2 separate regions of the Homo sapiens genome follow, and region 1 is linked to region 2. A link means that fine-mapping ties the variant in region 2 to the expression of a gene that starts in the linked region. Tissue or cell type: whole blood. Region 2 holds a variant in brackets; the other region holds the start of a gene. All regions are shown on one strand. Distances are between the middles of the regions. Region 1 holds the start of LIG3 (DNA ligase 3). Region 2 overlaps LIG3 (DNA ligase 3).

Region 1 (10,953 bases), 25 kb before region 2:
TTCACGCTAGAAAACCCAACCCAGGAGCTCAAGGAAGATGGTGGCAACTTTGAGTTTTCCTCACACCACATCTGTGACCTCAACCCTCTTCTTAACCCTGTCCCAGAACCTCTCTGTCATGGATCAGCTACTCCCAAAGGCAAGTATGACTTCTCTCAGCTCTGCCCTTTCTCAACCTGACAGCTGTAGCACAACATATTCAAAGGAGAGGCCAAGAAACCCCCCTGGTTAAGAACCAACCTCCGCAGCCTTTATTGAGAATGAAGAACGATGAGCTGATTTGAATTATTATATCTTTCTACAGCTATTCCCTTTTAAATATTTATCCTGGCAAATACCAGCACCGTTTTTTACAACTTATTTGAATTGTGTGACTATTAAGCAAACCAACCCATAAAATCAGCTCTTGCTGCTGGGGTTTATGTGATTCATAGACCACAGCTTATTAAAAAAGGGAACCCACTGAGAACAGACTAGCCTCACAAGTGCCCCTCACTATCTCTAGGACAGTGTCAAGCCTTTTCCCAATTCTTGCCTGTGGCTCCCAAACTACCACAGTTAGTAGCATAGAACATGAACAGAATCTACCCATTTCCTTATGGCTCTTTTTCTTTGTAACAATTCTGATGAGTCTTAACTGGAAGTCAGGGTTAGAACAGACTTAAAGGAGACAGTCAAAACTCTTAAGAGGCTCACAAACAGGATAGATGCCGTAGAGGATTTACAGTCAACATCTGTGGAAAGAACTTAATTGAGGACTTTGAATAGCTAGGAACAAGCATGAGATATCCTGATTATTCACCACCAGCTTAGTTCTTGTTTGGATCATAAAACTGCTTTGAGACTCCATAAAAGCTCTTCACCAAAAATGCCCATGCACACAAATGTTTATATAAAATTTCAGGAAATTCAAGGACACCCCTGAGCCCATCCACAGTTCCCCTAGGGGTCTATAAGCCTCAGTTATTTCTTACTATCACTGTTACCACCCAAGCTGCCTTCATCTCTCCCCTAGATTATTAACATAGCTACCTGACTCATCTCCCAACTTCTCTACACAACAACCAGAGTGATAGTGATCCTGTTAAAGCTTAAGTTAGATCACATGACTTCTCGGCTCAATACAATCCACTAGCTTCCCTTCTCACCTGGAATAAAAGCCAATGTCTTTGCAATGTCTTACAAGACCCTACAGGATCTGTCTCCTTGCTCTTCTCAACCTTAACTCCAGCTGCTCTAGCCACATGGATCTCCTTGCTATTGTCCTAAATGACAGTCACATTTTTGGCCTCCAAGCCTTTATCTAATGCTCCATCTACCCTCAATCTGCATGAGGCTGACTCATTTCTTCAAATCTTTTCTCAGTTGTTACTTGTCAGTGAGGCCTTTCTGACCTCTATTTAAAACTGCCACCCTGCCCCTACCCCGCATGTCCCACCCTCCTCTGCTTTCTTCTTCTCCATGGCACCCACTGACTTCTTACACCTTATACATTTTACTTCCCTGTTTGTTATTGATCTCCCACACTAGTTTGCTCCATGAGGGCTGGATTTTTGTCTGCTTTGTTTCGCTACTGTATTACACTCCTGGAATTGTGCCTGATGCAGAGTAGGCACTCAATAAATACTTGACTGACCAATCAATGACTGAGTGATTACACTCTGTAGTGGTATGAATGTATCCAGGCTGGGTGGTGCAGGAGAATGTACATTTATTGAAATGCCTCTAAGTGCCAAGCAGTTTGCAAGCTGACATCAGTCATCTCATTTAATTGGCACCTACAATCCCAAGAGTTATTTTTATCCTCATTTCACCACCAACCCAAAAATGAAATACTTAAGCATAAATCTAATACAATATGTACAAGAGGTGTATGAGGAAAACTACAAAACTCTAATAAAAGAAATCAAAGACAAACTAATCAATAAATATTCCATCTTCATGGATACAAATACTCAATATTGTCAAGATGTCAGTTCTTTCCAATGTAATCTGTATATTCAATACAATCCCAATCAAAATTCCAGTAACTTAGTTTGTGGATATTGGCTTTAGAAACTGATTCTAAAGTTTATGTGAAAAAGCAAAAGATTCAGAATAGCCAACACAATATTGGAGGAAGAGAACAAAGTTGGAGGACTGACATTATCTAAGTTGAGACTTGCTATAAAGCTACAGGAATCAAGACAGTGTGGTACTGGTCAAAGAACACACAAATAGACCAATGGACCAGAATACACAGCCCACAGACAGATTCACATAAATATAGTCAATGATCTTTGACAAATGACCAAAAGCAATACAAATGAGAAAACAGTCTTTTCAGAAATGGTGTTAGATCAACAAGGGATCCATATGGCAAAAATTGAATCTAGATAGATCTTACACCCTTCACAGAAATAAACTCAAAATTGATCCGGGACCTAAATGTAAAACTATCCCCATTTCACGGTGAAAACTGAGACCCGGAAAGTTAAGAAAATAGATGAAAGTTACAGACAGCTGGTAGTGGAACATAATTCAAACCTGTCTGTGCAAATCCAAAGCCCTGCTCTTCCTACCACACTTTGCCTCATTCTCCTTGGTAGAGTAGTTCCCACTTTTCTTTTTTTTTTTTGAGACAGAGTCTCGCTCTGTCTCCCAGGCTGGAGTGCAGTGGCGCGATCTCGGCTCATTGCAACCTCTGCCTCCCAGGTACAAGCGATTCTTCTGCCTCAGCCTCCTGAGTAGCTAGGATTACAGGTGCACGCCACCACCTGGCTGATTTTTGTATTTTTAGTAGAGATGGGCTTTCACCATGTTGGTCAGACTGGTCTCAAACTCCTGACCTTGTGATCCGCCCATCTCGGCCTCCCAAAGTGCTGGGATTACAGGCGTGAGCCACCACACCCAGCCAGTTCCCACTTTTCTAAAGAAGTGCAACTGCCGGCTTTCGTACCTAGTTCCATTTCTTGTGTACCTAGTTCTATTTCACAGCAGGGGACCTGAATCAGAGAGAATCAGGGGGTTCAGGGAGCTCTCATCAAGCAAAAATCATTTACAGCCTAAGTCTTTGCAAGTTTATATCAAATATTGTTATGATATAATAAACATCCTTCTAAGGGATCTTATCACTTCCAGAGTTTTATTCATTCATTCCATTCACTCATGAGTTTCATTCATTATTCACAGATATTTGTTGAGTATCTACTATGTGCCCAGCACTGTTCTAGGCACTGAGCATATAGCACAGATGCCACCCTCTACATGTAGGTTTGAAATCTAAGGCAGTGTACTCTAACAGAAATGTAGTGTAAGCCAAACGTGCAGTTTTATATTTTCTAGTCACCACATTTTCAAAAAAGTAAAAATAAACAGGTGAGATGAACTTTACTATATTTTATTTGACATAACATATCCAAAAAAATCATTTCAATAAATAATTAACATAAAGATAGGATAGTCGTGAGTTGTTTAACAACAGGATACCTTCTGAGAAATGCATCGTAAAGTGATTTTGTGATGGGAATATCATAGTGTACTTACAAAACCTAAATGATATGGCTGACTATATACCTAAGCTATATGGTATAGGCTATTGCTCCTAGGCTATAAACCCATACAGCATGTACTATACTGAATACTGTAGGAAACTATAACACAATGGTAAGTATTTGTGTCTCTAAACATAGGCAAAGCACAGCACACACACACACACACACACACACACACACACACACACACACACACACAAAGGTATAAAAGAAAATGGTCCAAGGTGGGTGGATCACCTGAGGTTGGGAGTTTGAGACCAGCCTGACCAACATGGAGAAACCCCGTCTCTACTAACAATATAAAAAAATTATCCAGGCGTGGTGGTGGGCACCTGTCATCCCAGCTACTTGTGAGGCTGAGGCAGGAGGATCACTTGAACCTGGGAGGCAGAGGATGCAGTGGACTGAGATTGTGCCATTGCACTCCAGCCTGGGTGACAAGAGCGAAACTCCATCTCAAAAAAATAAATTAATAAAACCACACACATAAACAGCACAGTTGTATAAAAATATTTTTCTTTTTTTAAATAAATATTTTTATTTCTTATAAATATGTTGCCTAGGCTGGTTTTGAACTCCTTCTGCCTCAGCCTCCCAAAGTGCTAGGATTAGAGATGTGAGCCACTGTGCCCAGCCAATATTTTTGCTTTATATCCTTATTCTATAAGCTTTTTCCTATTAAAAAAAATTCCTTTTACTTTTAAAACTTTTTTGTTAACAAGACAGAAACACACACATTAGCCTAGTAAGCCTACAGAGGGTCAGGATCATCAATATCACCATCCTCCACCTCTACATCTTGTCCTACTGGAAGGCCTTCAGGGGCAATGTCACACGTGGAGCTGTCATCTCCTCTGATAACAATGCCTTCTTCTGGAATACCTCCTAAAGGACCTACCTGATGCTGTTTTACAGTTAGCTTTTTTTTTTTCAATAAGTAGTAGTATACTCTAAAATAACAATAAGGCTGGGCATAGTGTTTCATGCCTGTCATCTCAGCACTTTGGGAGGCCGAGGCAGGCGGATCACTTGAGGTCAAGAGTTTGAGACCAGCCTGGCCAACATCGTGAAACCCCGTCTCTACTAAAAATACAAAAATTAGCCAGGCGTGGTGGCGGGTGCCTGTAATTCCAGCTACTCAGGAGGCTGAGGGAGGAGAATTGCTTGAACCTAGGAGGCAGAGGTTGCAGTGAGCCAAAATCCTGCCACTGCACTCCAGCCTGGGCGACAAGAACAAAACTCTGTCGCAAAAAAAAAAAAAAAAAATTATTAGCCCATTGTGGTGGCAAGGGCCTGTAATCCCAGCTACTTGGGAGGCTGAGGCAGGAGAATCACTTGAACCTGGGAGGCAGAGGTTGCAGTGAGCCAAGATCGTGGCACTGCACTCCAGCCTGGGCGACACAGCGAGACTCTGTCTCAAAAATAACTAAATTAATTAATTTAATTTAATGACAATAAAAGGTATAGTATACTAAATATATAAACCAGCAACATCGTCCTTTATTATCATTATAAAGTTTTATATACTGTACATAATAGTGTGTGCTATGCTTTTATACAACTGGCAATGGAGTAGGTTCGTTTCCACCAGCATCTCCACAAACACATGAGTAATGTGCTGTCACTATATGATAGGGATTTTTCAGCTCCATTATAATCTTATGGGACCACCCTCATATATTTGGTCCATTGTTGGCCTAAATGTCATTATGTGGTACATATTATTAATGAGATATTTTACTTTTTTTAGTATGAATTTTTTGGTGTGTATTTTCTTCACTTATAGCACATCTCAATTCCATGCAACATTCAAGTGCTCAATAGTCACGTGTGGCTAGTGATTACAGCATTGGAAAAAGACAGATACGGTTGAGGAAACTTAAAAAAATGTAGCAAATGTAGTTGTAGAGACGTGCTCAAGATCACTCAATTATCATAGCTAGGACGTGAGTCTCCAGCGACCTTCCAATTGCCTGGTTGAACCAAAGCCCTGGTTCATTCTGCTGCGCATTAAAAGCAGGCTTTACTCCCCTCCAAACAGTAGAATCGCAGTTAAACTTAGTCAAACAAACTTAATGTATCCAATACAAAACTCATCTTTCTAACCCTAACACCTCCTCTTCCTCTCTATTTTCTATTTCAGTTGATGGTACCATTATGTTTCTGCTCACTCAAATTATTATTATTTTATCCATAAACGAGCACTTTATCTAGAAGATCATTTAAATTCTAAATGATCTTCAAAAACGCACTTTACTCTCCACCCTAACTAGCTGAATCATCTCCCACATGGGTCACTATGAGAGCCTTCTGATTTGTTCCCTTGCCTCAGTCTCTCCCCACCCAGCTTCAGCAGTATTCCCTAAGACTCTTCATGGCTCTCCGTCCTCTACAGAGTAAAGACGACACTCTTCATCACACAGCACAGAATTCTCTCGGGAACCTGTTCTTTGCTTACCTAACAAGGCCCAGTTGTTTGCTCTTCCTAGACTCTGAAGAGGTCACTTACCCTCAGGCTGCTACATTTGTAAAAATCGCCATCCCAACTCTCAAAGAGCTGGCTTCAGATTTGAGATAATACACTTTGAATGATATACAATCAAGGAGTTTCTCCTCCATCACTCCTTTACATTTTATATCTATCTGCTGTTTAGTGCCTCGTCTCAATTCCATGAAAGCTACTGAATACAAACTATTTACTAGGGAGTCTGCGGGACACAAACAGAGGGATTATATTTAAAAAATAGATTGACGCGATCTTTGCCTTCCCCGACCTCATTACAATATAGTTTCTCCACCAATATCTTTAAAAACAGATCCTCTCTAACAGTATGAGAAAATCAAGGGGAGCCTCGGAAGTTCAGGCCAGGCTGCGTTCCGAGGAGCCGCCACGTCCCCCCACCTCCGCTTCCCGGGCCGCGATTGCAGGTTGAAAACTACTCCCAAACATCACAGGGCAGGCAGAATGCAACTACGACCCACGTGGCAGACGGGGGCGGGGACCGGTCGCGTGGCCGCGGCCTTGGCTCTTGCGCCTGCGCGCTGCCTCCCGCTCTAGGACCCGGATTTAAAGAGACAGGCGCTCCAACCGTCGTGGGCTGCCCGCGGCCTGTAATGAGCAAGTTCCGAGGCCTACGGTGAGCGCCGGAGCCGGAGAGGCAGGTGAGGGGCTACGCGGCGCGGCACGGCGCGGCGGGGCCCGGCGTGGGGAAGGCAGCGGGCCCGGGGCGAGGAGCTCGGCGCGGCCGGGGAGCCAGCCCCCCGGCTCCTCCCCCGCCCGCCTGCGGAGCCCCGGGGCACACCCTCCGTGACGTGGCGGCCCTCCCGGGAGCCCAGGGGGAGGCTCGCGGCTCCCCGGGACCCCCACGGGGCCGCGTGAGGCGGGGAGGCCGGCGCCCGGGCTGTGTTCCCTGTGGAACCCACGGGGCCTTCTCGTACCCTGGCCCGGCGTGCGTCCTCCTGCGCTGAACCGGGAGCGCTCGGGTGGGACTCAGGGAGCCTTGATCACTTCCCGCCTGCGTCCCGGACCCGGTGGAGGAGCGCTCCTTTCTGCCTCGCCGGGGGTCGCGGCCTACGCCGCCGACCCCACTGTCCCCGCCACTCTCCGACAGCGGCGCGGGAAGCCCTTCGAGAAAAGCGGCGGCGGCCAGGCCTCAGCGATTTCCTTCTCGGGCCCCTGGGCTGCGGCAGTTGTGAGGGTGCGGAACGAGGGACAGACGGGTTTCCTCAAAGCTGCATTGTGCCTCCTCGTGGCCCAGCGCCTCCCGAGCCTCCCTCAAGTCCACTCCTTTCATTATTGGGGCCCTAGAGGTTGCTCTGTAAATTGATCTTCTAGGAAAAGTGTTGAAACTCACTTGTTCTGACCTCCTTTTATGGGTCTGCCGTACTTCCACTTACCTCACCTCTGTGGTTCTTAAACTTTGGGAGTTATATAGCCCTTTGTGAATATCACGAAAGTGATAGACCTCCTCCAAAAAACCGTGCATTTTTATCGAATGTACATTTTGTATACATTTTTAGAGAGCTCAGAACAGCCTCCCTCCCCCACAACCAGCGCATTCATGGATTCCTTGTAATTTTCCCAACTACCCTGTGAGGTAGGTATTATTTACCCTGCTTTAGAAATAAGAAAACAGATGCAGATAAATTAAGAGTTTTCTCCGAGGTAACAGTCAGTAAACTGTACAGTCAGACTTGCACTCCCATCCCTTATTCCAGGTCCACCAGCTTTCCTTCACATCATGTTGCACTACAGTAAGCAAAGCCTGCTTTTTATTATAACGTGACAGCAATTTTGCTTCACAGCGTGTGCAGACTGAACATAATTCCAGTATACTTAAAACTAGGACTATAAAATGCTTTAGAAAACATGAATATAAGAAGATGCTGATATAATCTTTTTCCATTTGGATTGATTTATGAGTTCCTGTGAGTCTTGCTGCCCAGTGACTTCAGCATTCTCTGATTCAAGTTGCTGAATGATAAACAGGTTAATTGCACATCGGAAGCCTCTTCTTGAAAGATAACGACGTCACCGATCATAATAGGAGCTGACGTTAATGAGAGCTCTTGCTGTGTGCCCAACTGTTTTAAGGGTTTTACTCTTAGAACAGCTCTTTAAGTTAGGCCCCATAATTAGCCACATTTTACAGATAAGGAAGCTCAGGAACAGAGGTAAGAAACCCATCAAGGTTATACAGCTGGTAAGTGGCTGAGTTAGGATTTGAACTCAGGCAGTCTGATTCCAGGCTCTGCTTAGTTGTCTCTCAATATAGGGATTCTAACTCAATTCCAAATCTATATAGTGGCTTGATTTCTGAGGATGGCATATGTGTTAAACTTCACAATAAAAACTTCATGAACATAATGTAATTTTTACTGGTGATTAAAACGAAACTTCAGGGCCAGGCACGGTGGCTCATGTCTGTAATCCCAGCACTTTGGGAGGCCGAGGCGGGCGAATCACCTGAGGTCGGGAGTTGGAGACTAGCCTGACCAACAAGAAGAAACCCCGTCTCCATTAAAAATACAAAAAAGTTAGCCGGGCGTGGTGGCGCATGCCTGTAATCCCAGCTACTAGGGAGGCTGAGGCAGGAGAATCGCTTGAACCCGAGAGGAGGAGGTTGCGGTGAGCCAAGATCGCGCCAATGTACTCCAGCCTGGGCAATTAAAGTGAAACTCCGCCTCAAAAAAAAAAAAAAAGAAAGTTCAGGATCTTGTAATACTTAAAGGTCATCATCCATTATGAGTATCATATGTTGCTGATGGCCTAAAAAGAGCTTTTATGTTATTTGGATTTTCTTCATTGTGATGTACTAGATGTACATGTGTGCATTAGATAATTGAACATCCTGCTGCGAGCTGGCTTTTCCTGTATCAGAACTCTTTCATGCTGTAGAGTAGACTATGAATGTAATACTTTGGAAAGTGTTTGATTAGTCATCATGGACTATATAAGACGCTGGCCTTTGGAAAATTGGAAGCCTATCTCCTTGTTTATATCTTTTTTTTTTTTTTTTGGCCTCCTACTCTTTCGTACAGCTATATGTCTTTGGCTTTCAAGATCTTCTTTCCACAAACCCTCCGTGCACTCAGCCGAAAAGAACTGTGCCTATTCCGAAAACATCACTGGCGTGATGTAAGACAATTCAGCCAGTGGTCAGAAACAGATCTGCTTCATGGACATCCCCTCTTCCTGAGAAGAAAGCCTGTTCTATCATTCCAGGGAAGCCATCTAAGATCACGTGCCACCTACCTTGTTTTCTTGCCAGGGTTGCATGTGGGACTCTGCAGTGGCCCCTGTGAGATGGCTGAGCAACGGTTCTGTGTGGACTATGCCAAGCGTGGCACAGCTGGCTGCAAAAAATGCAAGGAAAAGATTGTGAAGGGCGTATGCCGAATTGGCAAAGTGGTGCCCAATCCCTTCTCAGAGTCTGGGGGTGATATGAAAGAGTGGTACCACATTAAATGCATGTTTGAGAAACTAGAGCGGGCCCGGGCCACCACAAAAAAAATCGAGGACCTCACAGAGCTGGAAGGCTGGGAAGAGCTGGAAGATAATGAGAAGGAACAGATAACCCAGCACATTGCAGGTAAGGTAGAGAACACTGCTTTCTCATCTTACTGGTGCTGAGAGAAAAAGGGATAAGGAGTTCAACTGCTTTCTTTCTCTTTTTTTTAACTTTGCTCTTTTAGAGATGGGGTCTCACTCTGTTGCCTAGGCCAGTGTTTAATGTTGCATTCGTAGCTCACTGCAGCTTTGCACTGCTGGACTCAGGTCATCCTGACTCAGCCTCCCAAGTAGTTGGGATTACAGGCGCATGCCACCATGCCCAGCCTTTAACGTTTTATTTGGAAATAATTTTAAACTCACTGAAGTGTTGGAAGATTAAAAATAGTACAAAGAACATTCATATTCCTTTTACCCATATTTACCTATTAACATTTTACTCTATTTGCTTTATCATATTTGTTCATGTGCTGTCTCTCTCTACATACATACACACGTGTGCGTGCACTCACTTTAAACCATTTGAGAATAAGTTGCATACATCATGGCCCTTTAAAATTCTTCAGTGTATATACCTTAAGAATAGGATATATGACCCTTATGCGACTATAATATAGCTATCATCTTCAGAAAATTTGTCCTTGATGTAATACTTAAATCTACCATCTGTATACTATTTTGTCAATGGATTGAGTCATACCTTCAGTAGCCTTTTCCTGCAGTATAGGATCCCAGTCTAGGATCATATCAGGTGTTGCATTTAGTTGTCATGTTTCTTTGGCCTCCTTTAATCTGAAATATTTCCATAGTCTCTCTTTTATGACATTGATATTTTGGAAGAATAGAGTACTGATTACTATCCTCTTTTACTTTTTTTCTTGTAGCATATAATTCATTACTGTACTTAACTAATTTGATACTTAATTGTCCCATATTTGGCCAATTAGGAACCCCTTTACACTGTCCTCTGTGTCCTGTATACCTTCATTAACTTTTTTTAATGTACTTCTTTACTCTTGAGCATAGCAAGATGCTTTTAGTCTTATCCCGTATGTATCCTTCCCCAGCCCTGAAATTGGTAATTTCTCTGGGGATTCCTGTTAGTGGGAAATGCCCCTGTTAAAGAGTAAAACCTGGATACTATGTGTCCACATTGTCATGGGGTATCTGTTTCTTCTTTTTTTTTTTTTTGAGAGTCTCACTCTGACCCAGGCTGGAGTGTAGTGGCACTATCCTGTTAGTGGGAAATGGTATTAAAGAGTAAAACCCGGATACTATGTGAACACATTGTCATGGGGTATCTGTTTCTTCTTTTTTTTTTTTTTGAGACAGAGTCTCACTCTGTGACCCAGGCTGGAGTGCAGTGGCACTGTCTTAGCTCACTGCAACCTCTGCCTTCCAGGTTCAAGC
Region 2 (10,953 bases):
GAGGCCATGATGATGCCACGCTTGCCCGCCTGCAGAATGAACTAGACATGGTGAAGATCAGCAAGGTGAGGAAGGGACCTGGTTGGCCATGGCCTCTGGACTGGCCGCCATCACTGAGACAGAGGCTGTGCTTTGGGGACTACAGGTATTTCTGTCTCCCCAGAAAGAAGGGTTGCAGCTTGCTCAGGGGAGCAGGATTAGGCCTTATAATCTCTGAATGCCTTCTTGTGGAAAATGGCTTGCATGCCTCTAGGTCATACCCACTCTGGGCTGGGAGGATCACATGGCTCAAACATCAGCTGTTTAAGTGGCTTCTTATAATCTCATTACCAAGAGAAGGGATTTAAGCCTTGTTCCAGGTTGGGAACAGCCCAAAGTAGCATCTTTTCTCCTCTAGGACCCCAGCAAAATACCCAGCTGGTTGAAGGTCAACAAGATCTACTATCCTGACTTCATCGTCCCAGACCCAAAGGTATCAACCCAGTGGCTTGGGGGCCTCCAGCTCATAGAATTAGCTTGCAGGTTCTCTAGTGCCATAGAGAATCCATCTCACCTCGCTGAAAGTCCACCCAGGGATAGGGGTCTGGATTTCCAGCTGAGTGATAGGCACAGGGACAACCAGACAACTCTGAGGAATTTTGAATAGAATTCTTTCTGCAATACAATTGCTTTAAAAAAAGAGAGAGAAGAAGAGAGTACCTATCCCCTCAGCACAAAGGGTGTGTTCTAGAAGTAATCTGGCCCAATCCCTTCTTGTACCGACCAAGAAAGAGATCTAGAGAACAAACAGGACTTCCCTAAGGTTATTCAGCAACAGCAGCAGCAGAACTAGGACCCAAGTTTCCCAGCTGTTAGCCAAAGCTTTTTTGGTTTTTGTTTTGTTTTGTTTTTGAGACGGAGTTTCACTCTTGTTGCCCAGGCTGGAGTGCAATAGCGGGATCTCAGCTCACCACAACCTCCGCCTCCCGGGTTCAAGTGATTCTCCTGCTTCAGCCTCCCAGGTAGCTGGGATTACAGGCATGTGCCACCGTGGCCAGCTAATTTTGTATTTTTAGTAGAGATGTGGTTTCTCCATGTTGGTCAGGCTGGTCTTGAACTCTTGACCTCAGGTGACCTGCCCGCCTCAGTCTCCCAGGGTGCTGGGATTACAGGCGTGAGCCACTGCACCCAGCCGCCTTTTTGGTTTTAATTGTTCTGTATTGCTTCTAGCTGGTTGGGAGATACTTTTTTTTTTTTTTTTTTTTTTTTTGAGACAGGGTCTCACTCTGTTGTCCAGGCTGGAGTGCAGTGGCATGATCTCATCTCACTGCAGCCTCCGCCTCCTGGGTTCAAGCAGTTCTCTCACCTCAGTCTCCCAAGTAGCTGGGATTACAGGGGTGCCACCACCCCCAGCTAATTTTTGCATTTTTAGTAGAGATAGGGTTTTACCATGTTGGCCAGGCTGGTCTCAAACTCCTGACCTCAGGTGATCCACCTGCCTTGGCCTCCCAAAGTGCTGGGATTACAGATGCAAGCCACCGCGCCTGGCCAATACTTGCTTCTCCCTTTTTTTGAGACAGTCTCGTTCTGGAGAGCAGTGGCATGATCTCAGCTCACTGCAACCTCTGCCTCCTGGGTTCAAGCGATTCTCATACCTCAGCCTTCTGAGTAGCTGGGACTACAGGCGTGCACCACCGTGCCTGGCTAATTTTTGTTATTTTTTGTAGAGACGGGGTTGCGTCATGTTGGCCAGGCTGGTCTCAAACTCCTGACCTCAAGTAATCTGCCCACCTCAGCCTTCCTAAGTGCTGGGATTACAGGCTTGAGCCACCACGCCCGGCCACTGATACTATCTTCTTAACCAGTGATGACCTGCTGGCTTACTCCTGACAGAAAGCTGCCGTGTGGGAGATCACAGGGGCTGAATTCTCCAAATCGGAGGCTCATACAGCTGACGGGATCTCCATCCGATTCCCTCGCTGCACCCGAATCCGAGATGATAAGGACTGGAAATCTGCCACTAACCTTCCCCAACTCAAGGTAGCAGCTCTTAGGCTGTATATGTATTCTCCACCCCACTGTCCAGGCCTTGGAGCCTTGGGCATCTAGACCATTCACATGTCCTCTGTCTTCTCCTTTCCCCCATTCTCCTGAGGCAGAGCAAGGAGGGCAATTAGAGAGGGAGACAAACTGCTGCTGGGCCAGGGGCACAGCACTAGACCTCCTTCTCCCTCCATCTCTGAGTAGAGAACCTTGCATTTGCAAGGCCCCACTGAGCAGCCTTTAGTCTGGGGAATAAGAGTTTGCTCCTGTTGCCCCAGCAAAGCCTGCTTTGCTGTACAGAGAACAATGATTTGTACCCTGATTACTCAGGCTATAGGGCCATACTTTGGAATGGTGCCAAGGGAGCCAACTCCTTTTCCTTGCTCTTTATCTTTCTCACATCTTTGTTCCCATATGCGCCTAAAATACACCACACACACCACCTCTGAGGCCAGACTGGGAAGGCAATGAAACCCTCTGACATTGTCCCTCCCCGCCTCAGGAACTGTACCAGTTGTCCAAGGAGAAGGCAGACTTCACTGTAGTGGCTGGAGATGAGGGGAGCTCCACTACAGGGGGTAGCAGTGAAGAGAATAAGGGTCCCTCAGGGTCTGCTGTGTCCCGCAAGGCCCCCAGCAAGCCCTCAGCCAGTACCAAGAAAGCAGAAGGGAAGCTGAGTAACTCCAACAGCAAAGATGGTAAGGATAGGGAGGGGGCTGGTATGGTGAAGAGGGCGGTGTGAGGGGCAGAGATCCAAGGGCAGGGACCCAGTCTCACATTCCAGCCCTGAGATCTCATGATTATCTGTGTCCACTGCAGTGGACACAGACTACATTCCTGGTGTGTGTCCAGCCATGGGCCAGAGACCCTTCTGCTGGGCACCCTGTATCTGCTCAGCAAACCTGAATGGAGCAGTACCCTGGGGACAGCCAGTCTGACCAGGGAATAAGCTACCTTTGAGTAAAGGGCTTAGCTGATAACTCTTCACTCCCCTCTCACCTATGCTCATAGCAGAGAAAGCCCCTGGTCCTTCCCATTACTGCCCCTGACTTCAGGGAGCATTATCAGCAATCCCTACCCTCTTAGTTCTTTTGTATCATATGTTTTTTAGAGACAGGGTCTCACTCTGTCATCCAGGCTGGAGTGCAGTGGCACGACCATAGCTCACTGCAGCCTCGAACTCCTGAGTTGAATTGATCCTCCCGAGTAGCTGGGACTATAGGTGTGCACCACCACACCCAGCTTCCTCTCTGTCCTGCAGGCAACATGCAGACTGCAAAGCCTTCCGCTATGAAGGTGGGGGAGAAGCTGGCCACAAAGTCTTCTCCAGTGAAAGTAGGGGAGAAGCGGAAAGCTGCTGATGAGACGCTGTGCCAAACAAAGGTGAGGGTAAAAACAGCAACACACCACGTGGGCCAGTTTAGCCCAGGTTGTGTTCCCAACCTTCTGTACAAGAAGTTTGAAAGAGGATGAGCAAAGGTGTTTGGGGAACATCGGCTAAACCTCTTCCCTGCCTGCAGCCACTCCTCTGTCGTGGGCAGGGTCAGCAATGCTGCTGCTCACCCTATGTCCTCTTGTTGCCTTGCAGAGGCGGCCAGCCAGTGAGCAGAGAGGAAGAACTGTGCCAGCAGGCAGGAGATAGAACAGCCCGGCCTAGCCAGGAGAGACTGCAGGGACTCACTCAGCTGCTGGCCCCAAGTCAAAATTTACATTAAAGGGAAAAGACCAGTCTGGGTGTGGGAATGCAGCATTGAGTTTGTGGTCAGGGTGGAAGCAGGTCCAGCAAGCAGCGAGTCGGGGAGAGGGCACTGGCTTGGTGACTCTCCTCCCACCTGAGGAGCCTTTTCCCTGTTACATTTTCTTGTCAGTCTTGGGTTTGGCAACATCTCCTGAGCAATTCTTTTTTTTTTTGAGATAAGTCTCGCTCTGTTGCCTAGGCTGGAGTGAAGTGGTGCAATCACAGCGCACTGCAACCTCCGCTCACTGCAACCTCCGCCTCCCAGGTTCAAGCGATTCTCCGGCTTCAGCCTCCCGAGTAGCTGGGAGTATAGGCATGTGCCACCATGCCCGGCTAATTTTTGTATTTTTAGTAGAGACGGGATTTCACCATGTTGGTCAGGCTGGTCCCAAAGTCCTGACCTCAAGTGATCCGCCTGCCTTGGTCTCCCAAAGTGCTGGGATTACAGGCCTGAGCCACCATACCCGGCCTCTTTTGAGCACTTTCTGATGCCAAGAACTAGGTTTAGTACTGGCTCAACTCTGGGGGAGCTGATGCCTCAAAGGACAGATAGAGAAGTAAACATATGATTGACACCCATGTCATTGCGCCCCCACGCTCCCCACCGCCATCCAGGAGTAAGCATAGAAGTCTCACAGCACAAGGCCTGAACTCGGTCCCCAACAGACCTGTAGAAACCTTTCCCCTCTCTCTTCCCAGCCTGAAGTCCTTGAACCCATTGAGAGTAGTAAGCAGGACTCCTGACCCCTCAGTCTAGCAGGTTGTACAGAGTAGACTGCTTGGTCTCAGGGGACATCACTGAGTCTGGGGGCACTGAGTCAGAGCCAGCTCCGCCTGCCCACCATGACTGGGTGGCTCTTATACACATGTACTCTTCCCATCTCCAGGTCCCAGATGTCGAGGCCTGTCCACTCTCCTTTTCCCCTAGGCAGGGATGGAGGGGCGTGTCAGTCCTGTATAATTTGGAGTGACTGGAGGGGTGGGGGTATTGATGCATGGTATTCCAGTAAACTTCTCTGCTTGTGTCCTAACTCTAGGCTCCCTCATTCTGTCCCGTGCTCATTTGGGTGAAGACCCATCTGTACCCAGTGTAGGTCTGACCCCACCCTGACCCCTCTGCATTTGCAGGTATTGCTGGACATCTTCACTGGGGTGCGGCTTTACTTGCCACCCTCCACACCAGACTTCAGCCGTCTCAGACGCTACTTTGTGGCATTCGACGGGGACCTGGTACAGGAATTTGATATGACTTCAGCCACGCACGTGCTGGGTAGCAGGGACAAGAACCCTGCGGCCCAGCAGGTCTCCCCAGAGTGGATTTGGGCATGTATCCGGAAACGGAGACTGGTAGCTCCCTGCTAGGTTTGCTGTCTTCCCTCTCCCTCAGGCCATACTCTCCTTTACCATACTACTGGACTGGACTCAGGCTGGAGGCAGATAGACACAGTATAGGGGGAATGGGCTTGCTTCTCCCAAACCCACCAGTTCTCCACTGTCTCTTCTGGACCAGGAATTAGTTGCTGTGGGTGCCACAGCTGAAGTCAGTTTGTCTTGCTGGTTTAAATAGATCTTTCAGAGCTGGGTGCTGGGTTTGCCATCTTTTTGTTTTCTTTGAAAAGCAGCTTAGTTACCCTTTTTATAAATAAAATATCTTGCAGTTATCTTTGTCCTTTCCCCACCTACACCCCCAATAATTTCCCTAGAGATTAAGGAGTAAAGGCTGGGCTATGGCAGCTCTGTCCACAAAGCCTTCTCTCCCATCCTTGCCTGTTCCTTTGTACTTCCAGGCTCATTTTAAAGTTGTATTTAAAGGACTGCCCTCGGAAATGCTTCTGTTTAGCGGAACTTGTATTCAGCCTGACACGCTTTGCCAGGAACAAACCTCATGTGAAAGAAAACAAAATGAATTTTTTTACTTTCTTCTCTGTGTTCTCCTATTACATGGTGAGGATCCCCAGTTTGAAGGGAGGGGACTAGGGTCAGGTAGGAAAATGGGGCCTTTATGAAGAAAGGGGAGGTTATTTGGGCCACTCCTCTGGAGGGATAGAGGGCTCCAGGAAGATCTGCATCCCCAAAACCTGGAAACAAGACTGTTCTTTAAGAATAAAAATCCACATGGGGCTTGAGGCCAAGAACAGCCCTTGTTGCCACCAACATGGAGACTTTGTACCATATCCCATTCTTAGTGCTCGAGTGTTCCAACCTGAAGTTGAAGAAGCCACCCTGGCTGCACATGCCATCAGCCATGACTGTGTATGCTCTGGTGGTGGTGTCTTACTTCCTCATGACTGGAGGAATAATTATATGATATTGTTGAACCCCCAAGTATTGGCTGATGAACGTGGGCATCAGAGGCCAGTAGCTTTCTTGGCCTACAAAGTAAATGGACAGTATATTATGGAAGGATTTGCATCCAGCTTCCTGTTTACAATGGGAGGTTTAGGTTTCATAATGCTGGACCAGTC[G/A]AATGCACCAAATATCCCAAAACTCAATCGATTTTTTTTCTTCTATTCATTGGATTCGTCTGTGTCCTACTGAGTTTTTTCATGGCTGGAGTATTCATGTGAATGAAACTGCCGGGCTATCTGATGGGTTAGAGCGCCTTTAAGAAGAAATCAGTGGATACTGGATTTGCTCCTGTCAATGAAGTTCTAAAGGCTGTACCAATCCTCCAATATGAAATGTGGGAAAGAATGAAGAGCAGCAGTAAAAGAAATACCTAGCGAAAAAAACAGGAAGCATATTGAAGCTCGGACTAGAATTTCTTCTTGGTATCAGAGAGACAAGTTTATCACAGTATTTTTTTTTTTCCTGCTGACCTATTGATAATACCAACAATGTTGAGTGGCATTTTCTTCTTAGTTTTTAATTTCTTAAAGAAAATATACTCCATATCTGCAGGGAAAAAAATAAAAATCCACACCTGAGAACAGATCCATACAACCTGCTTACAAAGAACAGCTCCTGTGCTACCTGAGGCTGATTTATTTGAAGAACAAAAGGAAGAGAGACAATTTAGTGTAGACAAGTGCTATTCAATAGAACTTTTTGCAGCAGTGGAAATATCCATAAATCTGCAGTATCCAACCAAACTAGCCACAGACAGCTGCTGAGCAATTGAAATGAAGCTGGCACAACTAAGGAACTGAAGTTCTTATTTTAATTCAACTTCAAATGGTCACATGTCACTAGTGACTACCACACTGGACAGTGCAGGTGTAGACGGAGTTCAGATCAGACTCCTGAAACTTAATGGCTCTAACCTTAGGCAAGTTACGTTAACATCTAAGCCTCAATCCCTCCAAGTAGAATGGGTGCACCTAAATCATAGGGTTGTCCTGTTGTCCTGAGCAACATTATGTAAAGCACTTAGCCCAGAGCCTAGCACATAGTTATCTAGAGTTGGGAACGTCACTCCTGGTGTGCATGTCCAGACCCTACCCGGGAGAAGGGCCTAACCTATGACTTTAGAACCCTCAGTTGCAGGTGTGCATGTTCCAGCCAACACTCCACTCTGAGTGCAGGCTCATCAGGACACCATATGGTTGTAAACTGGCTGCCATGTCCCAATCCTTCCAGCTCTTGAGGGTCAGTTCTCACCTTATGAACAAATTAACAGGCTCTGGACCTATAAGATCAAGGACCACTGCGCCCCCTGGCCACCCCACCGCCCCCCCCCAACTTTGATCTGATTGACTTTGGCTTCCACCTACTGTTTAAAATGTGTATGTTGGGGGAGTAGGGACAGCACGGGGGAGGGGTTTACTTTCCTGACTCTAGCCCAGGACATTTGGTGTTTTTGAATAGGCACCATTCAGCCTTGCTTCAGTATTAGGAATAAGATACTTTTTATTCCATCCTCTATGGAGACAAAAAGCTGCTCCTCCTTTGAGTACTGACCTACATAGATTTCCATTTCTCTCTTCAGCCTCAGGCCAAACAAACAACCGGACAGGGCAGCAGAACAAGGCTGTCTCCTCAGGATCCTGCCAAAGGCACTGTCCTCTCCAACCTGGACCCAGCCCCACTTGCCCTTATTGGTTGCTTACACCCAGAGTGCACACTCACAGGAAAGGGCCTCTGCTGGCTGCAGGTGATCATCTTGTCCCTTCTCTGCCTTAGTGTGTGTTATTGCCATTTCAATGTCAGTGGTTTTTTATGTATTTTCTTCCAGTCTTTGCTGCTGAGATCTGACTGTATATACTATTTTGTATCCTTTCATGTATTTCTTTCATGTATTTCAATGCAGCCCTCAACATCATCATCATAAATCTCTCCAGCAGAATGCTGGAGGCCTCCCTCTTCTGAACCTCTACATGCTGCTGGCTGGCATCAAGCAGAGGTCATCACTGGGTGCTGAACAGGTCAGCTCCCTAGGGCAATGTGAGCAAAGTGTTGTGGCTCATCCTCGATCCTTTATGCCCTTTTGGCAAGATTCCTTTCTCTTCTCAGTCACAGCAGATGGACACATAATCTTGTTCTCCCAGGGGCTGCATTCTCAGTAGTCTTTTCCCTGCTCCTTGGGCGCCTGGTCAGGGAGGTTTGTACAAGCCTGCGCACACACAGCAGTCTGTCACGAGGCTGGGCCAACCTTTTTTTTTTTTTTAAACAGACTCTTGCTCTGTCATTCAGGCTGGAGTGCAGTGGTGCAATCTCAGCTCACTGCAACCTCTGCTTCCCGGGTTCACAAGCAATTCTCATGCCTCAGCCTCCCAAGTGGCTAAGACTTAACAAACAGGCACACACCATCACTCGCAGCTAAGTTTTTGTATTTTTAGTAGAGACCACGTTTCGCCATGTTGTCCAGACTGGTCTCAAACTCCTGGCCTCGAGTCATCCACGCACCTCAGCCTCCCAAAGTGCTGGGATTACAGGCGTGAGCCATGGCGCCCAGCCTGGGCCAACCTTTTCTGAGCCATAGTCCAGCTGTACTACAGCTGTATCCAAAAGGTACCATGTATCTCCCAGGGTAACCTGAAGACCTAACTGGGCATACTAACTGTCCTCAGATTTCAGTTCTTTAAGGCCCATCTCTTCTAGATCAGTGTAAATATCTGAACTCACTTGGTGCTTCAACCCAATTGGTCTTGGGATTCATCCTTTACCTACCCAGCTCTCATTCTCTTCTAGGTTGTTCCATGGCCTCTTCCATATATTACATTTGTGGTCTTGAGCAAGTTAGTTAGTTACAACAACACTGAGCATCTTGACCAAGGTCACTTGGCCCAACCACAGGCTAATCCCAGGCCATGTGCACATCCCAGGATTAGCTTGTGGTTTATCAGTTGTCAATTTTTTTTTTTTTTTAATACAGGGTCTCACTCTGTCACCCTGGCTGGAGTGCGGTGGCGATCAGAGCTCACTGCAGCTTCAATCTCCTGGCTCAAGTGATCCTCCCACCTCAGCCTTCCAAGTAGTTGGGACTACCCACATGCACCACCATGCACGGCTAATTTTTTGGTTTTTTTGGGTTTTTTGTTTGTGTTTTTTTTTGTTTTGTTTTTTGAGACAGAGTCTCGCTCTTTCGCCCAGGCCGGACTGCAGTGGCGCAATCTTGGCTCACTGCAAGCTCCGCCTCCCGGGTTCACACCATTCTCCTGCCTCAGCCTCCCGAGTAGCTGGGACTACAGGCACCCGCCACCACGCCTGGCTAATTTTTTGTATTTTTAGTAGAGACGGGGTTTCACCGTGTTAGCCAGGGTGGTCTCGATCTCCTGACCTCGTGATCTGCCCGCCTCAGCCTCCCAAAGTGCTGGGATTACAGGCGTGAGCCACCGCACCCGGCCCTTGTTTGTTTTTTTAAGTAGAGACAAGGTCTCACTACATTGCCCAGGTTGGTCTCAAACTCCTGAGCTCAAGCAGTCTTCCCACCTTGGCCTCCTAAAGTGTGGAAATTATAGCATGAACCACTGTCAGGCTCTTTTGTCAGTCCTATCAACCTCTAACATCCTCGCACCAGACAGGACAGGTGTCTGTATTGAAACTTTATTACAAAATTATAAAGCAGAGCTCTGTAACAAAATAATACACATTTGGGTTTGCTTTAACCTCCAAGTAAGTCTGAGAAAATCTTAATAAAAGCCACTTGAAGTAACAATTCACATCCAAGAGATTTCCACAAATTTATACAATGTATATTGAGCACTAGTTCCTGTACAGCTTATTCTTATTAGTTTGGATCCAACTATTCCAATGTATTATGAACCAGTCAGCTATCTGTCTTTTGAAACAAGTCTTAACTGAAATCTCAGAGTAATCAGCAAAAGCTACGGAATAATTCTAAGAATTAGATGTTTCCATATCATTAAAACCAAGGATCCATGAGGGGCAGAAGGGAGGATTCAAAGATTTAAAAAAAATCAAATTTTAGACCTTGGTTAAATATTAACTGGAATGGGATCTTGGAACTCCCAACTTTAATTTGGTGTAATAAAAATGATGCAAAAAAAAAAAAAATCAGGGTTGTTTGACACCTTTTTTCCTAAAGGGAAACCTTCACCAAAAGGGGATAAAAGATTTAAAGGCAAAATGAGTAAACAACCTCAGTTTTAATTCTTACTGAGGTTACTAACCAGCTATCAGTATATTATTTTCGATTTGTGTCTAGGAGGGAAACTGAAGAGGAGGTAAGGCTTCAGCAGAGAAAGCAGGTTGTAAGTAGAGAGCCAGCTTCTGCCCTTAAGTTACTGCTAGATCTTAGCTGAATTGCACATACATAGACCTGTTTTACAGAGGAACTGAGTAGCTGAATGAATGATCCTTTGCTAATTGGTAGGCATTGTAAACTATAGTATTTACTGCCCATGACAAAAGTGGAAAGGGATGTCTTCATGAGCAAATCTGATTCCCCCAACTCCTGCAAAGGCTGTGGTTCAGAATCAAATCATCCAGGACTTTGTATAACATTGAGGTAAGTGGCCCAGTGTTCAGTTGACTAGTTTATGCAGTTATTTCATTCCTCCAAAGGGGTTTAGTGGTTGGTGATGGAAGAAAGCATAAATATGTCTGTACCAATGTAATAAGTCCCTTTAGAGGTTTCCCTCTGCCATCCAGAGTCATGATTGGTTCTAGTCTCAGATTTTTCAGCTGCATGGGAGGGGTAAGGGGTGGGAGGTGTCTGCCAAGGCGTTTAGGGTTTGCATAGTTCATCCATTGGTAATGGGAAAACACTCTGCTTTCCTGATCATGTGTTT

What was found.
Region 1: it holds the start of LIG3, and the variant in region 2 is fine-mapped to the expression of LIG3 in whole blood (INTERVAL, PIP above 0.99).

The regions. Positions count from the first base shown.
Region 1 is chr17:34,973,928-34,984,880 of GRCh38, forward strand. It overlaps LIG3 (DNA ligase 3), which reads left to right and starts at 6,585. Exons shown (of 20, transcript NM_013975.4): 1 at 6,585-6,695; 2 at 9,075-9,625. The coding sequence starts at 9,079. RefSeq lists a silencer at 6,610-7,039.
Region 2 is chr17:34,999,385-35,010,337 of GRCh38, forward strand. LIG3 (DNA ligase 3) reads left to right here. Exons shown (of 20, transcript NM_013975.4): 15 at 1-65; 16 at 398-472; 17 at 1,873-2,019; 18 at 2,525-2,720; 19 at 3,284-3,405; 20 at 4,889-10,359. The coding sequence ends at 5,122. It overlaps RFFL (ring finger and FYVE like domain containing E3 ubiquitin protein ligase), which reads right to left. Exons shown (of 7, transcript NM_001017368.2): 7 at 6,606-10,953. It overlaps RAD51L3-RFFL (RAD51L3-RFFL readthrough), which reads right to left. Exons shown (of 7, transcript NR_037714.1): 7 at 9,728-10,953. It also overlaps the pseudogene OSTCP7. Among named protein-coding and RNA genes, the nearest start is that of LIG3, 24 kb to the left of the region's middle. The variant G/A (reference allele first, on the strand shown) is at 6,226.